7 linked regions of the Homo sapiens genome follow. The protein of the gene in region 2 purifies or fractionates together with the protein of the main gene of each other region. This does not show direct contact. Each region holds a gene or a part of one and is shown on either strand. Other genes may lie near its edges. The genes, in order: FARP2, TACR3, PRKD2, MFSD8, RAB3B, TVP23C and TTYH3.

Evidence for each region.
Region 1: the proteins of TACR3 (region 2) and FARP2 purify together in Homo sapiens (affinity purification with mass spectrometry; one large-scale study listed by BioGRID and IntAct). This does not show direct contact.
Region 3: the proteins of TACR3 (region 2) and PRKD2 purify together in Homo sapiens (affinity purification with mass spectrometry; one large-scale study listed by BioGRID and IntAct). This does not show direct contact.
Region 4: the proteins of TACR3 (region 2) and MFSD8 purify together in Homo sapiens (affinity purification with mass spectrometry; one large-scale study listed by BioGRID and IntAct). This does not show direct contact.
Region 5: the proteins of TACR3 (region 2) and RAB3B purify together in Homo sapiens (affinity purification with mass spectrometry; one large-scale study listed by BioGRID and IntAct). This does not show direct contact.
Region 6: the proteins of TACR3 (region 2) and TVP23C purify together in Homo sapiens (affinity purification with mass spectrometry, with the first as the bait; one large-scale study listed by BioGRID). This does not show direct contact.
Region 7: the proteins of TACR3 (region 2) and TTYH3 purify together in Homo sapiens (affinity purification with mass spectrometry; one large-scale study listed by BioGRID and IntAct). This does not show direct contact.

Annotation. Positions count from the first base shown.
Region 1 is NC_000002.12:241,488,785-241,492,284, reverse strand, and holds part of FARP2 (FERM, ARHGEF and pleckstrin domain-containing protein 2), read right to left. Parts: intron 2,575-3,500; coding exon of another isoform or gene 2,554-2,574; intron 2,324-2,553; coding exon 2,241-2,323; intron 1,225-2,240; coding exon 1,106-1,224; intron 770-1,105; coding exon 606-769; intron 1-605. UniProt on the Homo sapiens protein: Functions as a guanine nucleotide exchange factor that activates RAC1. May have relatively low activity. Plays a role in the response to class 3 semaphorins and remodeling of the actin cytoskeleton.
Region 2 is NC_000004.12:103,713,486-103,716,985, forward strand, and holds part of TACR3 (neuromedin-K receptor), read right to left. Parts: intron 1-3,500. UniProt on the Homo sapiens protein: This is a receptor for the tachykinin neuropeptide neuromedin-K (neurokinin B). It is associated with G proteins that activate a phosphatidylinositol-calcium second messenger system.
Region 3 is NC_000019.10:46,703,615-46,707,114, forward strand, and holds part of PRKD2 (serine/threonine-protein kinase D2), read right to left. Parts: intron 1,036-3,500; coding exon 881-1,035; intron 778-880; coding exon 555-777; intron 1-554.
Region 4 is NC_000004.12:127,920,174-127,923,673, forward strand, and holds part of MFSD8 (major facilitator superfamily domain-containing protein 8), read right to left. Parts: intron 1,791-3,500; coding exon 1,687-1,790; intron 1,599-1,686; coding exon 1,351-1,598; coding exon of another isoform or gene 1,342-1,350; exon of another isoform or gene 664-1,341; coding exon 457-663; 3' UTR 1-456. UniProt on the Homo sapiens protein: Outward-rectifying chloride channel involved in endolysosomal chloride homeostasis, membrane fusion and function. Conducts chloride currents up to hundreds of picoamperes.
Region 5 is NC_000001.11:51,980,701-51,984,200, reverse strand, and holds part of RAB3B (ras-related protein Rab-3B), read left to right. Parts: intron 1-3,313; exon of another isoform or gene 3,314-3,500. UniProt on the Homo sapiens protein: The small GTPases Rab are key regulators of intracellular membrane trafficking, from the formation of transport vesicles to their fusion with membranes.
Region 6 is NC_000017.11:15,549,984-15,553,483, forward strand, and holds part of TVP23C (Golgi apparatus membrane protein TVP23 homolog C), read right to left. Parts: intron 1-3,500.
Region 7 is NC_000007.14:2,648,986-2,652,485, reverse strand, and holds part of TTYH3 (protein tweety homolog 3), read right to left. Parts: intron 2,920-3,500; coding exon 2,847-2,919; intron 2,574-2,846; coding exon 2,498-2,573; intron 300-2,497; coding exon 244-299; intron 1-243. UniProt on the Homo sapiens protein: Calcium-independent, swelling-dependent volume-regulated anion channel (VRAC-swell) which plays a pivotal role in the process of regulatory volume decrease (RVD) in the brain through the efflux of anions like chloride and organic osmolytes like glutamate.

The sequences.
Region 1 (3,500 bases), on a different chromosome or scaffold from region 2:
GAGAGGCTCGGGCTCAGCCCCCTCACGGGGGTGCTGGGGTAGCTCCTGAGCCCCTGCCCAGCCGATTGTGGCTGGGGTGAATTATGGGGAGACAGCAAAAAAGACAAGAGCTCTGGGTGGAGTAAGACAGCAGGCTTGGGGAAGGGTGTGGGGGCACCAGGCTGAGGAACCTGGTGACCCACAATGGCAGACCGGGCCCATGCAGTGAGATAGAGCTGACAACCTTCTATGGCAGGGTGCCTGGGCAGAGCCTCGAGCTCCAAGCCCGAGGTGAAGGGTTTTGGAGGCACTGGGACGGGGGGCTGCAGGGGATGTGTCTGGGAAGGCTTTTCTCAGCTCCACTACACACCAGCTCCAGGCCCTGAGGACACGCCCCGCCTGCTGGACTTCATCAGACACCAGACCTGAAACACCCTTTTCAAAGAGGGCTTGACTGGATGAGGGGCACTTTCCATACCAACTTCTACCAAGGGGAGAGTAAGAGGCAGTCCTCTGGGGCCAAGCCTGCCTGCTGGTACCCTCCTGAGGTCCCCTCCTCAGCAGCCAAGTGCAGAGACAGCTGGGAACATTCCAGATGCACTGAGGTGGTGCTCATGCGGTCGTACCTCGACAGCTGCACTGTGGTCTGCCCTGGACACGCTGGTGTTCCGGTACCAGCACACGTGCATTGTGGTGTTGGCCCGGTGCTGGCCATGCCCCTCCAGGGAGCTGCGGACACCCCGAGCATCATCTTCTGACTCCTGCTCCAGAGATACCTCGTTGGGGGATCCTGGGGAGAAGTCAGCAGCGTCTCAGGGGGAACCCCCTGTGGCCTCTGCTTGCCAAATACTTCCACCCCTTGGGTTCCTCTCGGGGGTCCTGGGGAAATGGGGAGCCCTTGGTGCTAGGCCAGCTGCTGGCTGAGAGCAAAACTACAGGTGCTTCTGCCAGAGCAGCTGATTGACACCTCTTCCCGCCCAGGCATGAGGCGTAGCCTGGAACATTCCTTGTGGAAGGGGATTGTGTGGGAACTTAGCGGGCCAATGGGGACCAAGGAAAACAGTTTCCAAAAAAAGCCTCCTTAGGTGTAGTGGAGGTCTCCTGGGGGGTTGTGGCCAGCACTCACTGGGGGGACGAGTGCACACAGTGCGGCCTGGCAGTGCAGGGGCCGTGTCACCGCCACTCTTGGCTGCTTGGATCGCGGAGTTCAGGTCCAGCATCCACTTCTCTTTCTCCAGCCGAGTGCTGCAGGGAGAAGGGCAAGGCTCAGTGGCTCTGCTCTTCCTTGTGTAGGGCCCCAGCCCTCAAGGGAGGGCGAGCCGTCAGGGCACCTGTTCTCTCACATTCTGCTTTGTCCTGCCTGGTGAGAGGACTGGGAAACGTGTCCCCTCCAGCGAGAATAGCAGGGAGGAGAGCTGGGAGGGACCTGCATCAGCCTGACCTCCAGGGTGCTGTGACAGGGTTGTGGGTGCCAGGGCAGGGCCCCGGTCCTAGAACAGGGGGTCTGCAGGGGTATTTGTTCCTGAAATGATGTTCTCTACATCTGTGATGCTGAAATGCAAGATTGGCCCTGGTTCATGATTAAGTGAGCATTTCCTGGTGGGAACTGAGTGCCCTGTGCTCTGATGCTGGCCAGGGCGCTGCAGAGTCAGAGCTGAGACTCCTCACAGAGCACAGTGTGGTGCTGGTGACCATGCAGGGGCCCCTGCATCCTGGCCGCCAAATGAGCTCAGTGTCATCCTTCTGTTGATCTTATCTGGGGAGGAGGGAGCTGTTTCCACTTGATTCTGTGCCATAGCCTGGGCTGCCTCATGTGAGTCTATACCACACTGGGACTGGGAGGCAGTGTTTGGCTGGGCTGGGTGTAAGCTGCCCTGTTGGGGCTTTGACCACTAGCTGCTGGCACTTCTTGACGTGAGGGTTGGGGAAGCGCCTGTGCCCTGGGAGACCACAGGAGCCTGCCCACTCACCCGTCCTGTCTTTGGAGGCACTGTGAACCGGAGGGCAGAGGGAGCGGCTCCACAGCACTGGGGCCTGCCACTTGTGGGGTGTTGTCAGGTTGGCAAGCAGCCCTGCCCCTGACAAGGGCGAGGCTGCTCCTTTGGTTGTGTGACTTGGAAGCAGAGCTCAGAGTCAAAGGGGGCACAACCCCATGAGGCTACATGGCTCCTCACAGCTCAGAGGACTCAGAGGCTCATGGCGAGGAAGTCCCCACCCCTCCATCCAGGGCTGCTCAGGATGGAGACATGGAAGACCCTTACCTGGCTGCCACCACGATTGTTTTCTGAGCCGCGTAGATGGTGAAACAGTGTGGAACAGACCACTCGTTATCACTTTCTTCCACCTGTGGGTGGGAGAAACGGTCCAAGTCTTGTGGCCAAGAAGGAACTGACAGCCTAAGCCTGAGCAGGACACAAGGTGACTGCTGGCAATGCTAGGTGGGGCTTGGAAGCCCAGTGCTGTCCAAGTGCACACAGACTCTACAAGAGGCCAAGGAGGACACTGGTATCCCTGCGCCATGGCAGCTGCACCCCAGGGGGTGAGCCATGGGCCAGAGGGCACCCAAATACTCACCGGGGGGTCCAGCACTATTAGCTGAAAATCAAGCAAAGGAAAAAATGTTGAGCATTTTGATTATCCAAAAGGGAGTTGGACAATTCATTTATGAACCAAAGACCAAAACCTAACAGAGCTAGATTCAAAGAAAACCCACTGTGGATTAATTTTAATTTTAAGTAGTTAGATGAAATAATTGCAAAATAAAATATTACCAAATCTAATCTAAAAGCATGTAACAAGGAATTGTCCCACGATCAAGTAAGGTTGTTTGGGGAATGCAAGGATCGTTCGGCATTAGAAAGCTGATTGATAACATTCATCCTATCAGAAGTCAAAGAGAAAAAGGGAAATCCATTCTCTACATGCTGAAAATGCCTTTGCCAAAATCCAAGGTGTTATTTCTGATAATACCTCTTAGAAACAGAAGGAAACTGTGTTAACATGATAAAGATGATCTTTTCAAGCCAAGAGCCATCATCCTTCCCTTAACAGTCAGGAACGAGGGCCAGTTCTCTGTCCCCAGGACCAGCCAGTTACCAACAACTCCACAGAATGGACAGCTTCCCTGTGCAGAGCCTGATACACCAACCAAGCCTCTCACTGGACATCAAAAATCTGAATCAACATAAGCAAGGGCAGGCAAAACATTGTCCAGATGTTAGTCTTCCCGTAAGTTAACACAAAAATTTAATGCAATTTCAACTGAAATCTCCATGGTGTTTTTGTAAGGAATTTGTCCAATGACTTAGAAGATTACTTGGAAGAATTAAATGCTTGAGAATAGCAAAGAATCTTTTTTAAAAGGAGGCAGAATAAGGGATGGAATGTGTTCACCAAACAGTGACTATCTCATATGACACCACTAATGAGAGAGAGTGGACTGATGCTGGACAGACAGGAATGGAGCAGAATGCCCAGAAAGAACTCGAGTGCAAAGACACAGGCTTCCATTTGATAAAGTC
Region 2 (3,500 bases):
GGGGGAGGGATAGCATTAGGAAATATACCTAATGTAAATGACGAGTTAATGGGTGCAGCACAGCAACATGGCACATGTATACATACGTGACAAACCTGCACATTGTGCACATGTACCCTGGAACTTAAAGTATAATAATAATAATAATAAGGAAAAAAAAGACAGAAAATCAATTAGACAGAAAAAAATAGGAGCTCTTCAATCACAGTGGAAAATAAAGTCATGGTTCTGGATGAGATTGGTTGGGGACAGGAAATAAAGAAGAAGAAAACAGGCCCAGAACTTAGTATAAAGCAACTTTTGCATTTAATCATTATGTATAGGCAGAGATTCAGAAATACAGCCAAAGAAGAGAGGCTAAGGAGGAAGGATATCAGAAAAGTTGGAAGCCGAGAGGTGAGACTTCTAGGCAGTAGCCACCTGTGAGGAATATTGCTCATGGGTCAAAGAAGTCAAGGACTGAAATGTCCACTGGATTTCTCAGTGTGGCTCTTTGGACAGTGTTGGGAAAATAATGAGATTTGAGTGGCTTTAAGAGCAAATAGCACATAAGGAAATGAAAATATGGGATATAAGCAAATGATACTTTCATGCTTGTTAGACATTTTTCTTTTTTTTGGATTTTGTTTATGTCTTTTGTTCTTTTTACACTGGGGATATACTTTTTCTTTAATAAATAAGAATATGTTATATATTAAGGATTTTTATGCCTGTTAAATATGCCATAAATTCTTGTTTGACATACACTTTTCTGTTGTGGTTAATATAACCTTGATATCAGCCGGAGTTCAGCTAGTTATAAAAGAGCAACCTCTGATTACATATGATTCTGTGATAATCTTATTACCCATTCAATTAATATATATTTATTGCTTTCACTATACGCTCACAATTTTATAAGAATTGGCACTATAATTTTAACTGAACTTTGACAACTCACTAGAGCAGTAATTTTAGTGGATGCAAATGGGATATTTTAAAATTATTGAATGAGAATTACAAATTTTAGAAAGAGCCAAACAGTTATGATAAGTTTCCTGAAAGTTAATTTTACCATAGTTTTAGTTACTATTTTGTAAATAATTCAAAAATATGTAACAGTTGATCTTAGGCTAAAAAGTTCATCATTTGCGGTAACTAGTGATAGTGAGTCAAGTATAACTATAACACTAATAAAGAGTATTAACTGCATGGAAAGTGACTTTTCCTAGAGTGCAGAGAAAGGATATTGCACTTGGTACTCAAATTAAAGACCGAAAAAGGATTTTTTAAAAATTTAGCAGAGTTCATATCTATAATGTTGGTAATGATGCAAAATTTACCACAATACATTTAGATAATCTGTTACTAGATTAAGACCTCAGTATTTCTCATGACTCTATATTTTTATTCGTTCAGAATAATTTTCAAAAGCTCTTCCTAGAGGATCTTTGAGTACTTTGCATAAATTAGGTTTATGTAAAAGTGAAATAGAAGATTACCAAATAAATTAAAAACAACAAAGGGTAGCATAGAAGACCAATTTTTATCTACTTGGCCATTACTATTCTTACACAGTTTTGTTGAACGCTCCTTTTAATAATTATTCATGTAAGGTATGCCACTGGATTTACAGAACAACTTTTTTGCTATCTTTCTTAAAGCTTTTGAACAATTAGATAAAACAGTAATTACTCTTTGATATGGTTTGGATCTGTGTCTCCACCCAAATCTCATGTCGAATTGTAATCCCCAATGTTGGAAGTGGGGCCTGGAGAGAGGTGATTGGATCATGGGGTGGATCTTTCATGAATGGTGAAGCACCATGCTCTTGGTGCTGTCTCCTGATAGAGTTCTTGTGAGATCTGGTTGTTCAGATGTGTGTAGCACATTCCCTCTCTCACTCTTGGTCCTGTTCCTGCCTGCCATTTAAGACTACTGCTCCTGCTTTGTCTTCTGTCATGATTGTAAGTTTCCTGAGACCTCTCCAGAAGCAGAAGCCATTATGCTTCCTGTATAGCCTGGGGAACCATGGGCCAGTTAAACCTCTTTTCTTTATCAATTACCCAGTCTCAGGTATATCTTTATAGCAATGTGAGAACAGACTAACACACTCCCTTAAGGTTTACAAGAAACAGTGTATGTGGTTTAAAAAAATATTTAATTAAATACTCAGATCAATACTGGATCATATGCCCTGAAATTTTCATTTACTATATGTTATAATAAAACTTCCTATAATTTCTAACCTAATCTCAAAGCATGTGCTTAGAAAATGAAAGAAAATATGTAACTATTTTCTAATATGACCATACATCAAGTACTATATGCCGTAAATGAATGGAAATCAAAATATTTGTATTGTAATAACTGTTCTATTAATAATTTTCTACCTTCTACTTTCTCAAGTAAAACATAGAATATATATATATGTAAGATATGTTATATATACATGTAAGATAAACAGTTTAAACTAGTACTAAATTCTAATTTGATTAAAGGTAATGACTTTGTCTAATCAAACCCTGCAGTCATCACAACTTGTTAGGTGTCATAATAGTGTAGAGGTGAAGAGAATCACTGGCCCTGGAGCTAACTGCAGTGATTTGAATCTTGACTGTACTGCATAATCTTGGAAAAGCTTATCATCTTTGAGGCAAGTGTTACATTTATATGTTATTTTTCAAAATGGCAAATTGGGGAAGGATGGTGGAGAGAAAAGCAACTCTTCACTGACAAATAATTTTATCTTGTGTGTGTGTGTGTGTGTGTGTGTGTGTGTGTGTGTGTGTTGGAGGTATAGGGGTGAGGAGACAGGTACTGGTAGTGGTAAAGTAGACTTCTAGGCAAGAAGGAAATGTGTAGAACTAGAAGATGGATTTCTGGCAAATTAGAAAACAGTTTCGCAGGACTTTGTAGCAAATCAGAAGTTAATGTGCTTCAGAATAAGACCAGAACTGGTGATCTCACAGTCAAATCTAGTAAACTTACTAATATTATTTAAATCGTGAAAATAGAAAGTAAGTAATTTTTCCAGTACAAAATGAGTGCTGAACACTTCAAGGAAAACTCAATGCCTTTTATTATAACAATTGTGTGACCATTAGCTTAAGGTTCTCCATTTGTAAGATACAGGCGTTCATTGAGGGAATATCTGTCATTTCTCAGAGTCATAAGAGGCTGCAACCATTTTGCTACAGCTGAACAAAAGCCATATGTGCCCAAGTCAAAGTTGCAATTATTTTCAAGATCACGGGTCTTTTGATTTTAGGCACAGGAACAAAGCGAATTGAATATATTTTCCATTTAGGCTAGGTTGATATAATTCAGTTTATATTCAGTGGGGATAGAAAACACTCAAAATTAAATAATTGAAGTTTTCACACTTCAATTGTAGTCTAAATTGGGAAATATATACTGTTTACTATATTCTTAGCTAAATGAGTCAGTAAGTCCATGCAGAAGGCACCATGATTCAGTGTCAACCTCAGAAAGGTTTTCTTTAACTTATAAAATATATC
Region 3 (3,500 bases), on a different chromosome or scaffold from region 2:
CAAAAAAATTAGCCAGGCATGGTGGCGGGCGCCTGTAGTCCCAGCTACTCAGGAGGCTGAGGCAGGAGAATGTCCTGATCCCAGGAGGCAGAGTTTGCAGTGAGCCGAGATCACACCACTGCACTCCAGCCTGGGCGACAGAGTGAGACTCCGTCTCAAAAAAAAAAAAAAGAAAAGAAAATTAGCTGGGTGTGGTGGCACCACCTGTAGTCCTAGCTACTTGGGAGGCTGAGGCAGGAGGATCACTTGAACCCAGGAGGTTGAAGCTGCAGTGAGCCGTGATTGCGCCACTGCACTCCAGCCTGGGTGATAGAGTGACACCCTGTCTCCAAAAAACAACAACAACACACACACACACACACACACACACACACACACAACTGAGGTTCTAAGATTCCAGAATTCCAAAGGTCCCAGAACACTAGGATTCAGGGCCCTCCCCTTCTGAGGCCCTGGGGTCCCAAGGCTCAGATCCTTGTGTCCTGCCACAAGACCAGGTTGGGGCGGGAAGGAGGTTCTGACCCTGTCTGTCCTCCCCGACAGGCCCAGCTAACCTTTGCATTGCAGGCCCTGCCGGAAGAGGCCCTTGAGGAGTTTCTTGCAAGCCTGGCAAACGGTGGGCCGTGTATAGCTGTGGATGAGGAAGGTGTGCGGCACCTTGACCTTGGAGAGCAGCATCTTGTCCAGCTCAATGGGGCGGCCCGTATACGATGAGGCAGAAGAGGAGGAAGAGGATGACGGGGGACGGCGAGGCAGGAGTTCGGTGGTGCTACGGCTCTGTCGTTGGCAAGAATGGAGGGGACACATCAGTGCGTTGGCCCCATGCCTGGGCCAAGTCACCCCCCTAGCCACCAACCCGTCCCATCCCCCATCTCCTCACCAGCTCTTCAGCCGTGCAGGGCAGGGACTCGGAGGTGCCGAGGCGCACCGAGTGGCCACTGGCCAGAGACGTGGATGACAGGCGCCGTTTGCGGGCCCCACTACAGTTGTTGGGGATGCTGAAGGCACAGCGCTTGTGGTAGTTCAGCCCGCAGCCTGCAGGGGGCGCCAGAGAGTAAGAGACATGGCGTCTGCCCCTCCTAGGTCTCTTCTTGAGAAGTTGTGCCCTTTCCACCCAATCTCTCACCTGGTCCTGTCCCATCACCCCCCGCCAGCACGATCTCCTCCAAAAGGCACTACTATCCGTAAGTGTATCAGCCCCTTCAGGCCCACCCCTCCTTAGAGTTCTGCCCCAAGTTCCAGCTTGTAGCCCCACCATCACCCCATCTGTCCCCCAGACCCTGAACACACCCACACCCCTTTTCTCACTCCAACAAGGGACACCTCAAAGGCTCCCCCCAAAGCTCTGTCCCCAGTTTCAGCTTGTAGCCCTGCCATCACCCCATCTGTCCCCCAGACCCTGAACACGCCTCACACCCAAAATTTTCCCACTCCAACAAGGGATACCTCAAAGGTTCCCTCCAAAGCTCCACCCCTAGTTCCAGCTTGTAGCCCCGACATCACCCCATCTGCCCCCCAGGCCCTGAACGCGCCTCACACCCCACCTTTTCCCACTGCAACAATGGATGCCTCAAAAGTCCCCGCCAAAGCTCTGACCCAGCCCCAGTCCTCTATGGTAAGCACCTCCTTCTAGTCCTCCCCAAAACTCCTGTCCATCTCCCTAGAGACACCTGTTCCCCCTTCTAACCCTGACCTTCCTTTTTCTGAGGCCCCTTTGGTTCCCCCTCTTTCCCCAACCCCAACTTTCCAAAAGAAAATGCCTCTCCTCACCCCCACCCCTAAGGTCACTATCCCTCCAGGTCTGCTCACCCCCTGTACCCCACTTTCTCTTTTCTGTAGACCTGGAATCCAGGCAATCCCTAAGTAGTGTGATTAAATCTTAGTAGTGTGGGCCACGCATGGTGGCTCACGCCTGTAATCCCAGCACTTTGGGAGGCCAAGGCCGGCGGATCACTTGAGGTCAGGAGTTTGAGACCACACTGGCCAACATGGCAAAACCCCATCTCTACTAAAAATACAAAACTTAGCCGGGTGTAGTGGCACACGCCTGTAATCCCAGCTACTCCGGAGGCTGAGGCAGGAGAATCACTTGAACCCAGGAGGCAGAGGTTGTAGTGAGCTGAGATCACGCCACTGCACTCCAGCCTGGGCAATACAGCGAGACTCAGTTTCAAAAAAAAAAAAAGAGTTCTCAGTTGTACTCAGGTCCATTGTACCATACTAGGCAGAAGTATGACTTCTTATTGTCTTATTTTATTTTGTAGAGACAGGATCTCCCTGTACCCCCGGCTGAAGCACAATGGCACAATCATAGCTCACTGCAGCCTTCAACTCCTGGGCTCAAGTAATCCTCCTGCCTCAGCCTCCTGAGTAGCCAGAACCACAGACATACACTACCATGCCCAGATAATTTTTTTATTTTTATTTTTTTGTAGAGATGGGGTCTCGCTACATTGCCCAGGCTGGTCTTGAACTCCTGGGCTCAAGTGATCCTCCCACCTCAGCCTCCCAAAGTGTTGGGATTACAGGCATGAGCCACTGTGCCCTGCCTATTTTATCTTTTAAAATCCTCATCCATGGAGAAATCAGCTCAACTCCCTGTTTCCCACTGGACGTTCTGTATGTGTGCTCTAATACATCTCCAGTGATTCCAAACGATTCCAGGATCGCTTTCTATTCTGGAGTGAAGAATGTTCCTCCAGCCTTTGGGAGCCCTTCTGGTACCCGCCTGCTCCAGGCTTTCCAGTTCCACACCTCCTCATTGTAGGCACTGTCTTGGCTGCATGCTGTAATCACGGAGGCAAGCTTGGAGAACGGTGTTGGCCCTGCAAGAAGAGCTTCAGCAGGGCAAATGGTCTTTGCACACAGGAACCATTTCCCAGTGTTGGCCTTGAATCACTCATGTGCCTTCCAGAATTTCAGAATCTTATCTATAACTCTCAGAATGAGTCTCAGGATAGAGTTAAACTCCTGTCGGAATGTAGTCATTTGGGGTTCTCTTGCCACCATAGGAACTGGGACCATCATCTGTGATGCTGCACCAGTGAAGTCTGTGCTGATAACCCATTAGGACTTGATGACACCAGGGCTGTATCATGACAAAGACTGCATATGCTGAGACCTCAAGAGTTGGATATGGTGTGTGGACGATGGCAATATTTATAAGAGCTTTTAATGCACTGAATCAGTATCTGCAGGCCTAGAGTCCTTAAATAATACAAGTATACTTTGGACTGCATGATGATCTGGAACACAGGATATTGGAGAAACTGGATTTCTTTTTTTTTTTTTTTTTTGAGACGGAGTCTCACCCTGTCACCCAGGCTGGAGTGCAATGGTATGATCTCGGCTCACTGCAACCTCCACCCCCTCAGGTTCAAATGATTCTCCTGCCTCAGCCTCCCGAGTAGCTGGGATTATAGGTACCCGCCACCACACCCAGCTAATTTTTCTAGTTTTAGTAGAGACAGGGTTTCACCATGTTGGCCAGGCTGGTCTCT
Region 4 (3,500 bases), about 24 Mb from region 2:
AAAAAGTAGGTGTCTGAATAAAAATACCTCTACTTGGGTAGAGGTATTTAAAATTCTATAATTTTGTTCTGCTATGGCTAATTCTTACAGAACCCTCTTTCTGGTTCCACTGTATATTATTTTAATGACACTTCTGCAGTGGGTATTAAGAATACAGCTTCACATTTATTCATCATTGTCCATTCACTCATTAGTTCATGCAACCACAAAAAGGTATTATAAGAATAATATTTCATTTCTGAGGTAAGGAAATTATCATCTAGTATGTTTTTATATAACCTACTATTCACAATGACATGTAGAATTCTCTCTGTTATTCAACATATGTTCTTGTTCTTCAAAATCTGCAATATCTGTAGTCTGATTCTTGGAGACTGGCTCACCGCAATTGTCTAGCAGAGCTTTAGACCAGGAAGTGCCACACAGCAAGTAGTTTCCATCACAGTCTTAGCTAGTTTATTCCTGAATCCTCCCATATCTTACAGAAAGAGCAATGAGTCTTTTGTAAACCACTCCCAGGAGGGTGATGGTGAGCACTATTATTCCACACACCAGGCTGAATGCCCATCGTGGTCCCCAGTGAGCATACACTTGGCTGATGAACATAGGCCCAAGAATCCGGGCTCCACTTCCAGATGCTGTTAACCAGCCCATGTATACACCCTGTTGGGGGTGAAATGGAGGACAAGCAGATTGATATTGGGGTTTAGTTATTTAAAAGCAAAGAAATGGTATTACCAAACTACAGCAAACTTACAAGAATCATTTCTGCATCTTTTACTTTTAAATTAAACATAAAATGCCTCCTATAAATATAGCATTTAATATTAAGTCAGATTAAAAAAAATAAAAGGAGTGTAAAGGGAAAAACTTACTGTCTGCTGAAGCCCTGGGAATAATAAAATTGATTAAAATACCTTTTAAAGCTAACATTTATTTTGTACCTGCTACATGCCAGTCACTGAGGTAGGTGCTTTAAATACATCATTTGTAATGTTCACAAGTTTCGATGACAGGTGTTATGCCTGTTTAACAAAGGTAGAAGCTGAAACTCAGAAAGTTTAAGTAACTTGTTCAAGAGGTTTGAAGCCATATTTGGCTGACTCCACTGTGCCACTTTACACTCTACCACAATGCCACTCCTACAACTTCTGTATCCAAAACTATAACCCACATAACCTACCCAAGAATGAACTTTATAGAAGTTGTGGGATTTTTAAAAATTTTAAATGCTGAATATGATAAAAATCCCTCAAATCAGTCTGTGTAAAAATAGAGAATGGCAGCAAAAAATGTTGAGTGCTTACAAGTATATTTTCTATAATTGCAATGTCAGGGTACCTGGCTTACCTGAGGTTTTGGTCCTAGAATTTTTGAATATAGAGTATAGGACATAAGATTGCAGACTGGATAGCCTAATCCTATTAGCACAGCTGATGTAAGGAACTGGGCCAGATGAATCACCGGGGTGTAGAGGCACCAGGCTTGTTCAATCGAGCAACCAGTTGGTCTTTCATTGTCATCTTCCATTGGAGACTTCCAAAGACCAATAATAATTTCCCCAAATGTGGTATTAGGGATTGAATTATTGTGCAAATCTGTAAAAACAAAACCATTGCAGTGCATTACTTGTTGATTTTAGATAAATAACAGAGGTTAACATTATAGAATTATGTATGGCTATACCTTCCCACTGTATTTTGGGAAATTGATTTCCCCAAGGTAACAAGATAAAGAAGCCAACCCATACAACGATGAGTCCTCCCAGTAGAATAGCACGCTCGCCAATCCTGTTAAAGAACAGAAACTCTGTAATTTTAAAATGAAACATTATAACATAGCTTCATTACTTTCATAATTTTAAAAACTAAAAATAATATCTTGTACTTTTAGTGATATATCCATTAAAAAGAATGCTAAATATAATTTTCCACTAAAAATAACCAGGACTCCTCTGAAAAATGGCTGACTTAAGGTCTGGGACACAAAAAGTAGATGAGCTCAGATCTTTCACAGCAAAAAGCACAGAAGTTATCAGTGACTACTAGGTCATGAGTCTTTTTGACTCAGCCAATTTGAAGAAGCTGGCCAAAAATGTGACAATGTGAGTACCAAAACAGAATAATAATGGCAATGGATTGAAACACACAAAAAGTATTATCATCTGTGGCCTGGTGTAGTGGCTCACACCTATAACCCCAGTACTTTGGGAGGCCAAAGCGGGAGGACTGCTTGATGCCAGAAGTTCAAAACCAGCCTGGGCAACATAGCAAGACCCCATCTCTACAAAAAATTTTAAAAATTAGCCAGGAGTGGTATTTGGTGCCTGTAGTTCTAGCTACTTAGGAGGTTGAGGCAGGAGGATTACTTGAGCCCAGGAGGTCAAGGCTGCAATGAGCTGTGATGGCACCACTGCACTCCAAACTGGGTGACAGAGCAAGACCCTGTCGCCAAAAAAAAAAAAAGTGTTATAATCTATGAATTCATAGTATATTAAAATAAAGTACTCTTTGGTCAGTTTTTGAGGATGTTAGGGAAACAAAAGAAAATAATCAAGCCTTTATCCTGCCTTTCCTATACAACTATAGCTCAGGTTAACCAAATAGTTGGTGAGGGAAAGATTCTCTTCATGGTAAGTATTCTAGCAAATAAATAAAGGAATGATAGAATTAAAATACCAGAATTTTGTAATGATTCATTAATGAATTAATGGATCTATGGAATAATCAGTGGCTACTTACATGTTAAGAAGAGATAAACAAAACATTATATTTCTTCTGATATAAGCACATATTCCCACCTATAAAGTATTCTTGCCAAAAAATTGAACCCAAATTTCATCAAGCTTCTAGATGCAAGTACTAGTTTTTAAGAAATACAGCAATCATGTCATCTGCAAACAGAGGCAATTTGACTTTCTCATTTCCTAATTGAATACCCTTTATTTCTTTCTCTTGCCTGATTGCCCTGGCCAGAACTTCCAACACTATGTTGAACAGGAGAGGTGAGAGAGGGTATCCTTGTCTTGTGCCGGTTTTCAAAGGGAATGCTTCCAGTTTTTGCCCATTCAGTATGATACTGGCTGTGGGTTTGTCATAAATAGCGCTTATTATTTTGAGATACGTTCCATCAATATCAGTTTATTGAGTGTTGTTAGCATGAAGGAGTGTTGAATTTTATCAAAGGCCTTTTCTGCATATATTGAGATAATCATGTGGTTTTTGTCATTGGTTCTGTTTATGAGATGGATTACATTTATTGATTTGTGTATGTTGAACCAGCCTTGCATCTCAGGGATGAAGCAGATTTGATCGTGGTGGATAAGCTTTTTGATGTGCTGCTGAATTCAGTTTTCCAGTATTTTATTTTTTATTTTTATTTATTATTATTATTATTATTATTATTATTATTATTATTATTATTTGAGACAGAGTCTTGCTCTGTCGCCCAGGCTGGTATGCAGTGGCGTGAACTTGGCTCACTGCAAACTCCGCCTCCCG
Region 5 (3,500 bases), on a different chromosome or scaffold from region 2:
CCTCCGCCTGCCAGGTTCAAGTGATTCTCCTGCCTCAGCCTCCAGAGTAGCTGGGATTACAGGCAGCCACCACCACGCCCAGCGAATTTTTTGTATTTTTAGTAGAGATGGGGTTTCACCATGTTGGCCAGACTGGTCTCGAACTCCTGACCTCGTGATTCACCCGCCTCAGCCTCCCAAAGTGCTGGGATTACAGGCATGAGCCACCGCGCCCAGCCCTTACTTTCTTTTCTTTTTTTTTGAGACAGTGTCTTGCTCTGTCACCCAGACTGGAGTGTAGTTGTGCAATCTTGACTCACTGCAGCCTCCGCCTCCTGGGTTCAAGCAATTTTTGTGCTTCAGCCTCCTGACTAGCTGGAATTACAGGTGTGCGCCACCACACCTGGCTAATTTTTATATTTTTAGTAGAGACTGGATTTCACCATGTTGGCCAGGCTGATCTTAAACTCCTGAGCTCAAATGATCCGCCTGCCTCGGCCTCACAAAGTCCTGGGATTATGGGCCTGAGCCACGGCACCTGGCCTCAAAATCTCATATTTTTGTAGTACTTTTGGTACTACTAAATTTTTGTAGTATTTAAGTACAGTCTTGCATTGCTAATGACAAGGATATGTTCTGAGGGATGTGTCATTAGCCGATTTCATAGTTGTATGAACATCATAGAGTATACTTACACAAACCTATATGGTATATGGTATAGCTTACTATACACATAGTCTATATGGAATAGATAGCCTATTGCTCCTAGGCTGCAAACCTGTACAGCATGTTACTGTATTGAATGTAGCAGGCAATTGTAACACAGTGGTAAGTATTTGTGTAGCTAAACACATCTAAACATAGAAAAGGTACAGTAAAAATATGATGGTTTTTTTTTTTGAGACCAAGTCTGGCTCTATCACCCAAGCTGGAATGCAGTGGTGCAATCTCAGCTCACTGCAACCTCAGCCTCCCGAGTAGCTGGGATTACAGGTATCTGCCACCATGCCTGGCTAATTTTTTGTATTTTAATAGGGATGGAGTTTCATCATGTTGGCCAGGCTGGTCTCTATCTCCTGACCTCAAGTGATCCACCCACCTTGGCCTCCCAAAGTGCTGGGATTACAGGTGTGAGCCACTGCACCCAGGCATAATATGGTATAAGAGATAAAAAATGGTACACCTATATAAGACACTTAACCATGAATGGAGCTTGCAGGGCCGGCAGTTGCTCTGGGGGAGTCAGTGAGTGAGTGGTGAGTGAATGTGAAGGCCTAGGACATTACCATACACTATAGGAGACTTTATAAACACTCTACACTTAGGCTACACTAAATTTATTTAAAAATATGTTTCTCCAATAATAAATTAACTTTGGCTTACTATAACTTTTAAACCTTATAAACTTAAAAAATTTTTAAAACTTCTTAGACTCTTTTATTTTTTATTTATTATTATTATTATTATTTTTTTGAGATTGAGTCTTGCTCTGTCACCCAGGCTGGAGTGCAGTGGATCTCTGCTCACTGCAACCTCCACCTCCCGAGTTCAAGCAATTCTTGTGCCTCAGCCTCCTGAGTAGCTGGGATTACAGGTGCGCACCACCACGCCTGGCTAATTTTTGTATTTTTAGTAGAGATGAGGTTTCACCATGTTGGCTAGGCTGGTCTTGAACTCCTGACCTTAAGTGATCTGCCTGCCTCGGCCTCCCAAAGTCTGGGGTTACAGGTCTGAGCCACCATGCCCAGCCATAGACTCTTTTATAACAACACTTAACTTAAAGCACAAATACACCGTATGGCCTTTTTTGAGATGAAGGCTCAGTGTGTCACCTGGATTGGAATGCAGTGGTGCAATCATGGGTCACTGCAGCCTCAAACTCCTTGGCTTGAGCGATCCTCCCACCTTGGCCTCCCAAAGTGTTGGGATTATAGGTATGAGCCACTGAACCTGGCCTTTTCTTTCTTTTCTTCCTTAGTTTTTAAATTTATGTTTAAAATTATTTTGTTAAAAAGGAAGACACAAATACACACACCTGAGCTTAGGCCTACACAGGGTCCAGGAGCATCAATATCACTGCCTTCCATTTCCATGTCTTGTCCCACTGGAAGGTCTTCAGGGGCAATAATAGGCATGGAGCTGTCATCTCTTATGGCAATATCTTCTTCTGGAATACCTCCTGAAGGACCTGCCTGAGGCTGTTTTACTGTTAACTTTTTAAAAAATATTAAATATAAATAGAAAAAGTACACTCTAAAATAACAATAAAAAGTGTAGTAAGTAAATACAGAAGCCAGTAACATAGTCATTTATTATCAATATCAAGTATTATGTATAGCACATAATCATATGTGCTATACTTTTATACAACTGGCAATGCAGTAGGTTTGTTTACACCAGCATCAACACAAATATGTGAGTAATGTGTTGTGCTACAATGTTACCATGGCTACTATGTCACTAGGCAATAGGAATTTTTCAGCTCCATTATAATCTTATGGGACCGCCATTGTACATGTGGTCTGTCATTGACTGAAATGTTGTTATGCAGTTCATGATTGTACTTTTAAAATTTAAGTGATTTGCTAAATGATAACATACCATATATTCTAGCCTATACCTTGTACATATGATGTCAGCTATTACAATATGCATAGAAGGTATAGACTAGAATGCATGGTATGTTATTTATATAGAAATAAAAAGTATAAATAGGTCTCTTTGCTTATATATGCAAGGGCTATCTCTGAAGGATATATAAATTGATAACATGTATGCCTCTGGGGAGGGGAACTGGATCAGGAATCAGAGATGGAAGCAAGACTTACTTTTCAGTGTAAACCTTTAGGTTTCATATTACTTGTATTTTATGCTAGGAATTAAGAAAATAATGCAGCTGGGTGTGGTGGCTCTCGCCTGTAATTCTAGCACTTTGGGAGGCCACGGAGGGCAGATCACTTGATCCCGGTTTAAGACCAGCCTGGACAGCATGGTGAAACCCCATCTCTACAAAAAGTACAAAAATTAGCTGAGCATGGTGGCACATGCCTGTAGTCCCAGCTACTCGGGAGGCTGAGGTAAGAGGATTGCTTGAGCCCAGGAGATCAAGACTGTAGTGAGCCAAGATAGTGCCATTGCACTCCAGCCTGGGCGACAGAGAGAGACCCTGTCTCAAAATAAAATAAAATAAAATAAAAATAATAATAATTGAGCTACAGCTGGTAAAAAAGGTAATACTTGCAAATAGGATATGCTTGAATTATTTTCCGTAAGTATGTATTACCTTTTAAATTAACAAATAAAACATAGTATTAAAATAGATGGCTTTTTTTTAAAGTACAATTTCCATTTTATTTTTCTCCAGGAAATAGTCCATCTTCAGTCTTTAAGGACTCAGCTCCTTACATGGGCTTTGGTGGGGGTCGTGGGGCAGCACCTACAGGTCTAAATCAGGGTGGGGGTGTTTGGTCCTTGCGGGCTTCATGAGATCGATTCCTGACTACTTTGCTGTGAATTGCACA
Region 6 (3,500 bases), on a different chromosome or scaffold from region 2:
AAGAATGCTCTCAGAATACTTTCAAACTCTTCTGTTTCCATTTTCTAACTCTTTATTTCCTGCTTTTATCTTTATTAGTTTATTTTCCTGATTTCTCACACTTATTGCTTGTTTTTGAAATTTCTGGACTCAAGTAGTCCATTATTTTCCCTCTTTCTTGTCTAAAATAAAAGGCTTTAGTCTATTATTTTCCCTCTGAATTCAGTTTTTGACATATTCAGAAAGTTTAACTGTAAATGATCACCATTAAGGTATAAATAACTTATATTTACAGTTTTTGCTTCCTTTTAAACCCAAGATATGTAGTAGTTCGCTTTTTTAAAAGAATTCCAATTTCAACAACTACTTTCTATTAATTTCTAGTTCTGTTTCTTTGGAGTAGAAAATGTAGGTGCTTTGGGCAATTTTATTTTGATTTTCTTCACAGTGATATTTAGTCAATTTTTGTAAATGTTCCACAGGCATTTAACAAGAAAGTATTCTCTCTGTCATACAAAGTCCCAAATACTGCTATCAAATTGATGTTGCCAATTATTTCATTCAGATCCTTCAGAACTTATTTATTTTTTGGCACTTTGGTTTGTTTAAGATAGTAGTTTGTTAAACTCATCATAATGCTTTTCTATTTTCTAATATTTCCAATTTTTTTACTATACATAGTTTGATATAATTTTACTCTGTGAATGATCTTCACTGTGATTCATAAAATCACCTTTTTTTGTTCCTCTTAGTGCTTTCTTACTCTGATCCATATCTCATCTGATAATAATACAATGCCAAGTTTCTTTTTGTTTGAGTTGATCTTTGCCTTCTTTTATTTTTGCCTGATGTTATCTTTGCCTTCTTTTGTTTTTTCTAATGTCATTAATTTGGTTAGATCTTTTGTTTGGACTTTGATTTCTGACCAATCTTAGTATTCTTGTCTTTAAATGGGTAGTTTAATCAAATTACATTTCCTATTATAATGAATTTGCTATTACTTACATCACTTTATACATGTACTCTCTGATTTAAGCTTCCTTGACAGTTGCTTTGTTTTCCTTCTTTTGCTCTATGAACTGTTTTACTTGCTCCATCTTCTCCAATGTTGCAGAAGATACACGACTGGTTTTAAATTTTACTAATAGTTGCCATTATTGTTTTTTTTTTTTGAGATGGAGTCTTGCTCTGTTGCCCAGGCTAGAGTGCAGTGGCGCGATCTCGGCTCACTGCCAAGCTCCGCCTCCTGCCTCAGCCTCCTGAATAGCTGGGACTACAGGCGCCTGCCACCATGCCCGGCTCATTTTTTTTTTTTTTTTTTTTTTAGCAGAGATGGGGTTTCACCATGTTAGCCAGGATGGTCTCGATCTCCTGACCTCATGATCCACCCGCCTCAGCCTCCCAAAGTGCTGGGATTATAGGCATGAGCCACCGCGCCCAGCCATAGTTGCCATTAAATTTTTAAAGCCATTATTTAACCTTTTTTACTCAATTTGTCAGAGTGAAGAATAAAATAAAAACCAATATAAGCTTTAGCATTTAAGCATACCTTTAAATTATTTTCCCTTCTCTACCTCTTCTTTATCTTCATTAACATCACCTAGGGCAAGCCTATCCAACCCTCTGCCCACAGGCCTCATGCTGCCCAGGACAGCTTTGAATGCGGCCCAAGAGAAATTCGTAAACTTTCTTAAAACATTATGAGATTTTTTTGTGTGCGATTTTTTTTTTAAGCTCATCAGCTAATGTTAGTGTATTTTATGTGTGGCCCAAGATAATTCTTTCTTCCACTGTGGCCCAGGGAAACCAAAAGATTGGACACCCAGGGGTTTAGATGAAGATTGATTTTTTGTTTTTTTAGTAAGTACATTGAGATTTATAACAATTACGACACATCTCCATTTTAACTGTTTCAGAACCCTGCTTATCCCAAGTCCACTTAATAATTTCCCTATTCTTGACTTCTTAATTTTGCTTCATATCTCCATTGTTTTGCTATCTATAAGTAATTTTGCCAAGGATAAAAGGGTGCCATTTTTTAAGCTCTTGTTTAAAAACAAAAATAAACAAACAAATAAACCTTATCAGAAAATAAACTATTTTGATCGCATTTTTTAAAACTCTAAACCCAGAAAAATTTTAAGAATTTGGAAATTACCAGGAAGAACTGACTGGAAAGCATGTTCTATTTGGCTAAACAGAAATTTTATGAACAACAAAAAGAAACGTGTATCAAAACTGTGAGCAGTATGTACTAAATACTTTGGAGCATAAAGTAACAGAAGAAATTCAAAGAAATGCAAGCCAAAGAAGACTGGACAAAAGAAAAACCTAAAGAAAACAGACCTTTGAAATCTTCCTTCTCAGCATTATGCGGCCTACGGAAACTGGCCATCACCAAGCCAACCACTTCAGATATCTTTAAGAATTAAAAGATGGCCAGGCGCAGTGGCTCACGCCTGTAATCCCAGCACTTTGGGAGGCTGAGGCGGGCAGATCACTTGACGTCAGAAGTTCGAGACCAGCCTGACCAACATGGAGAAACCCCGTCTGTACTAAAAATACAAAAAAATTAGCCAGGCGTGGTGGTGCATGCCTGTAATCCCAGCTACTCGGGAGTCTGAGGCAGGAGAATCACCTGAACCCAGGAGGCAGAGGTTGCGGTGAGCCAAGATCATGCCATTGCACTCCAGCCTGGGCAACAAAAGTGAAACTCCGTCTCAAAAAAAAAAGAATTAAAAGATCTAAAAATGGCTACATTGGTGGATGTGAATAGGGTTGTAACATCTTACTAGTCTTTGAATCAGTATATGTCTCTGAAACTCCAAAATCAGCCTTTGATTTTTTTCTCCACTATTTTACTATATTTTCGAACACACACAGTTAAATTTTACAGTGAATACCCAAATATCTATCATCTAGAGTCCATATTTAATATTTTATTATGCTTACTTATCTATTTATTATGTACCTATCTATCCATCCATCCATCTCTCTAATCATTGTTCTTGAGTTTGAAACCATTTCTTACACTCCTTTCTATCCCCTACAGCAGGGTGTCTCAACCTTGGCACAACTGACATTTTGGGTCAGGTAGTTCTTTGTTGCAGAGGGGCCGTCCTGTGTGTTAGGATATTTAGCAGCATACCTGCCCTCTAGCCACTAGATGTCAATAGCACACTCCTCCCACCTCCAGTCATGACAACCAAAAACAATTTTGGACACTGACAAATATTCAGTGGGTGGCAAGCTTGTCTCTGGTTGAGAAACACTGCCTTAAAGCATCCATAGGAGCCTTTTCAAAAGGTAGGTATTTTTTAGGTATTTGTGGACAAACTACACTGGGGCCTTATCTAGAAATTATATACAACACACCTACAGGTAAGCCTGAAGCAAAACCCATGGTATGGATTAGAAGCAACATTGTAGGGTCTATGGTTGCTAGTCACATTTGTTTGTTTATTTGACTTTAAAGCTGATGTAGGTTAGAATATGGCACAGAAAAATCAGCAGCACAGTAA
Region 7 (3,500 bases), on a different chromosome or scaffold from region 2:
TCCCAGCGATGCGGGTGCATTGAGCAGGTCCCCCCGAAAGGCTCTCAGCCAGGTCACCAGGTCACCGGCATGGTAACCCCAGGGGCTGTTGGTGACATCCACACAGCCTTTGTCCAGCTCCCTCCCCCAGTTCCCCAGTCCTGCAGGCTGAGGAGCCAGGCGCCAGGCCTGCTGGGCCCCTCCACACACAGCAATGTGCTTCAGACTCTCCTGAAGCCCAGTCCCGGCCTCCCAGGCTCTCACCTGCTGGAAGGGGTTGGCGGCGCGGGGCGAGCAGGCCAGGTAGTACTGCAGGATGTCTGCGGAGAGACATCAGGGAAGGCTGAGCTGCAACAGCTGTCCCTGTGAGACTGCGTGCACGTCTGCCTGTGTCTGCACGCATATCTTCAGGGCATCTGCGTGCATGTTTACATGTGTGCATGTGTGTCTGTGTGCACCTGTTTACACATGTGCATGTGTCTGCATGTTTACTTACACGTGCATGTGTCTCTGTGCACGTTTCGTGTGCACGTGTGCCGGTGTGCATGTGTCTGTGTGTTTATATGTGTGCATGTCTGTGTGTACATGTCTTCGCATGTGTGTCTGCATGCATTTACACACATGCCTATGTCTGTGTGTGTGGCAGTGGGGTCTGGGCTCCCATCAAGCCAGAGTCCCCACACACTGCCCCTTGCCTGGGTTCCACCTTCCGAACTCTTTACAAGTTCAGTTCTTCCAATTATAAAAGAACATTAAAAAAAAACATTTTAAAAGTTCAAAAAATGATGAAAGTATTTAACAACATAGGAGAGCACCAGGCATCACTGTGGCCGCCTGTGCAGTGAAGCCAGCGTGGCTGGCCTTGCTGCCTTCTGGGAGGGGCTGTCTGGCCCGCAGGCTGGAGCTCACACTTACGTGTGTACATGTACACGTGTAGGGGGCGCTGCTCATACTTGATGAGATCCCCCCAAAGGCCGCCGGCTACAGTAGGGACCTGGAGGGACCAGGATGATAGCACCGGGGCCAAGGACAGTGGTGGGTAGCACTGAGCGGTCACCAGCCCTCCCCGCCCCTAGCAGAGCGGGCCCACCCCTCCACCCTCGCCCCCGAGGACAAGGTCAGTGGGCGGCAGATGACTTTTCCTCCAGGAGGCTCTTCAGGCTTTGGTGGAAGTGGTTCCTTCAACAAAGGCAGGTAAAAAACCAGCCCACAAGCCAATCCTGTGGCCTCCAGGGACAAAGGGTGGCAGGATGGTCACCTTCAAGGTCATTCAGTAACCCTCACCCCCACAGGGACAGGCCTTCTATTTCCTATTGGGGAACACACAATAATTCCACAAGGGGGGCCTGAGAAGCTTAACACACTGACGGCACCCCGATCTCCAGATTCCCACGTCCACCTGCCTCTGTGCCGTCCGACACACATCGCAAACCTCCCGAGGGGGCCGAAACTCCCGATGCCCCAGCTCCCTGCCCCCCACCTCCAGACCTGCTCCCCCACCCACAGTACAGCTTATGGTCCCGCAGCACAGAGCTGCTGAAACCAGGGACGCCAACTCCTGCTCCGTCCCTCTCGCTCCCTACATCCAACTGACCGGGAAGTCCTGCCAGCTCCGCCCTCAAAGCCCATCCCTGTCCACCTTTTGCTCCATTTATTCAAGCCCCTGCTGTCTCCTGCTTGAGGTATCCTCCTCACCCACTCTTGTAACCCTTGAGGCCTGAGGAAGCTTTGAAAGGGACCTTCAATCATGGGTCAAATCTCTCCCCTGCCTCCCTCCCTCCAATGGCCTCCCCCTGGAATAAAGCGAAGCTTGCCACAGAGACTCAGCCCCACTGGCCTCCCACCCTCCATTCTCCCCTCGGGTCTGCCTCCTGCCTCGGGGCTCTTAGAAGAGATGCAGCGTCCTTCTGGCTCTACTTTTTTTTTTTGAGATGGAGTTTCACTCTTGTTGCCCAGGCTGGAATGCAGTGGTGCGATCTCGGCTCATTGCAACCTCCACCTCCTGGGTTCAGGCAATTCTCGTGCCTCAGTCTCCGGAGTAGCTGGGATTACAGGCACCCACGACCACACCCAGCTCATTTGTGTATTTTTAGTAGAGACAGGGTTTTGCTATGTTGGCCAGACTGCTCTTGAACTCCTGACCTCAGGTGATCCACCCGCCTCGGCCTCCCAAAGTGCTAGGATTACAGGTGTGAGCCACTGCACCCAGACCTCTGGCTGTACTTTAATGCCACCCATTTGGCCTCCCCTGGGCATCTACTCGAAGCAGCCCTGGGTCACCTGCCGCTCCCCCTGCCACGCGGGCACCCGCCACCCCACATAGTTCCTGTCATTCTTTGCAGAGCCTCCCACTTGGGAAAGGTGGTCCTGTTTGCTCACTAGCATCTTGGCCTGGGACCTGTCTCCCTGAGACCATGGACCCACAGGGCAGGGGTGTCTCGGCCTCAGCTACCCCACTCTTTTGGCTCAGCCCAACCCTGGGGAACCCGCTGGGACACGGCCGTGGACACAGACTCACCCCCACTCAGCACCGAGTACTCCTCCACCATTTTGGTCACGTAGGCGTCAGGGTCCACACAGAAGTCGCTGGAGCCCTGAGGTGGGCGTGGGCAAGCAAGAGGGGTTGACCAAGCTGGGCCTAAAGGGAAGCTCTCGGGGGTAGAACCCGTCCCCTGGAGTCTGCTTTCAACTCAGGAGGGTGGACTGTGAATCTGGGGTTACAGGTGGACTGTGCCCATGGTGGGTCCCCACCGCTCTCGGGACCCAGTGCCCGGGAAGATGGGAGGGGAGAGGAGTGTGGCTTCCCCTCGTCCCTCCCCCAGTGCCCAGGTCCAGCAGCCGGGGACCTCACCCCCTCTGCCACTCACCACGGACACAGCCAGCTCCAAGCCCAGCGCGCCCCAGCTGATGACCAGGGCCAGGACTCCCAGCAGGCAGACCCTGGGGCAGAGACAGCCAGTCAGCAGCCCCCAGGCCAGGGTGGGGGCCGTGCCACCTGCTGGGCTGCAGGCCAGAAGGCAGGTCCCAGTGCACATCAGGGGTCAGCCCACACATGGGCTGGGGCTCTTCCTGTGGCCTGGCCTCAGCCAGAGCTGCCCACAGCCCAGGGCCCAGATGGATCCCTCTCCTAGGTGGGGTGGGGCTCAGAGATCTGAGCTGGAAGCAGGACTGGAGGGCCACGTGGCTCTTGGGGCCCCGCCCCTCCTGTCCCCCAGGTCCCTCTCCTGAACAGGCAACAGTGTCCACTTTCACGTGGGTCCCCGCATCCCGCCGCCCACGTAGCAGCCCAAGGGGCCTGATAACGTCAGCTAGATCAAGCCCTCCTGTGCTGAACCCTCGCTCAGCAACTGGGGACTCAGAGCTCTTGCTACGGCACTGGCCTCTCCCTCATCTGAGGCCTCACCTCACCCACATCTGGCTCCCTTTGATCCAGATACACAGGCCTCCTGTGCATACCCCACTGCAGGTGCCCCCACCACGAGTCCCCCATATCCCAGTTCAGATCCCCAAAACACACCCCA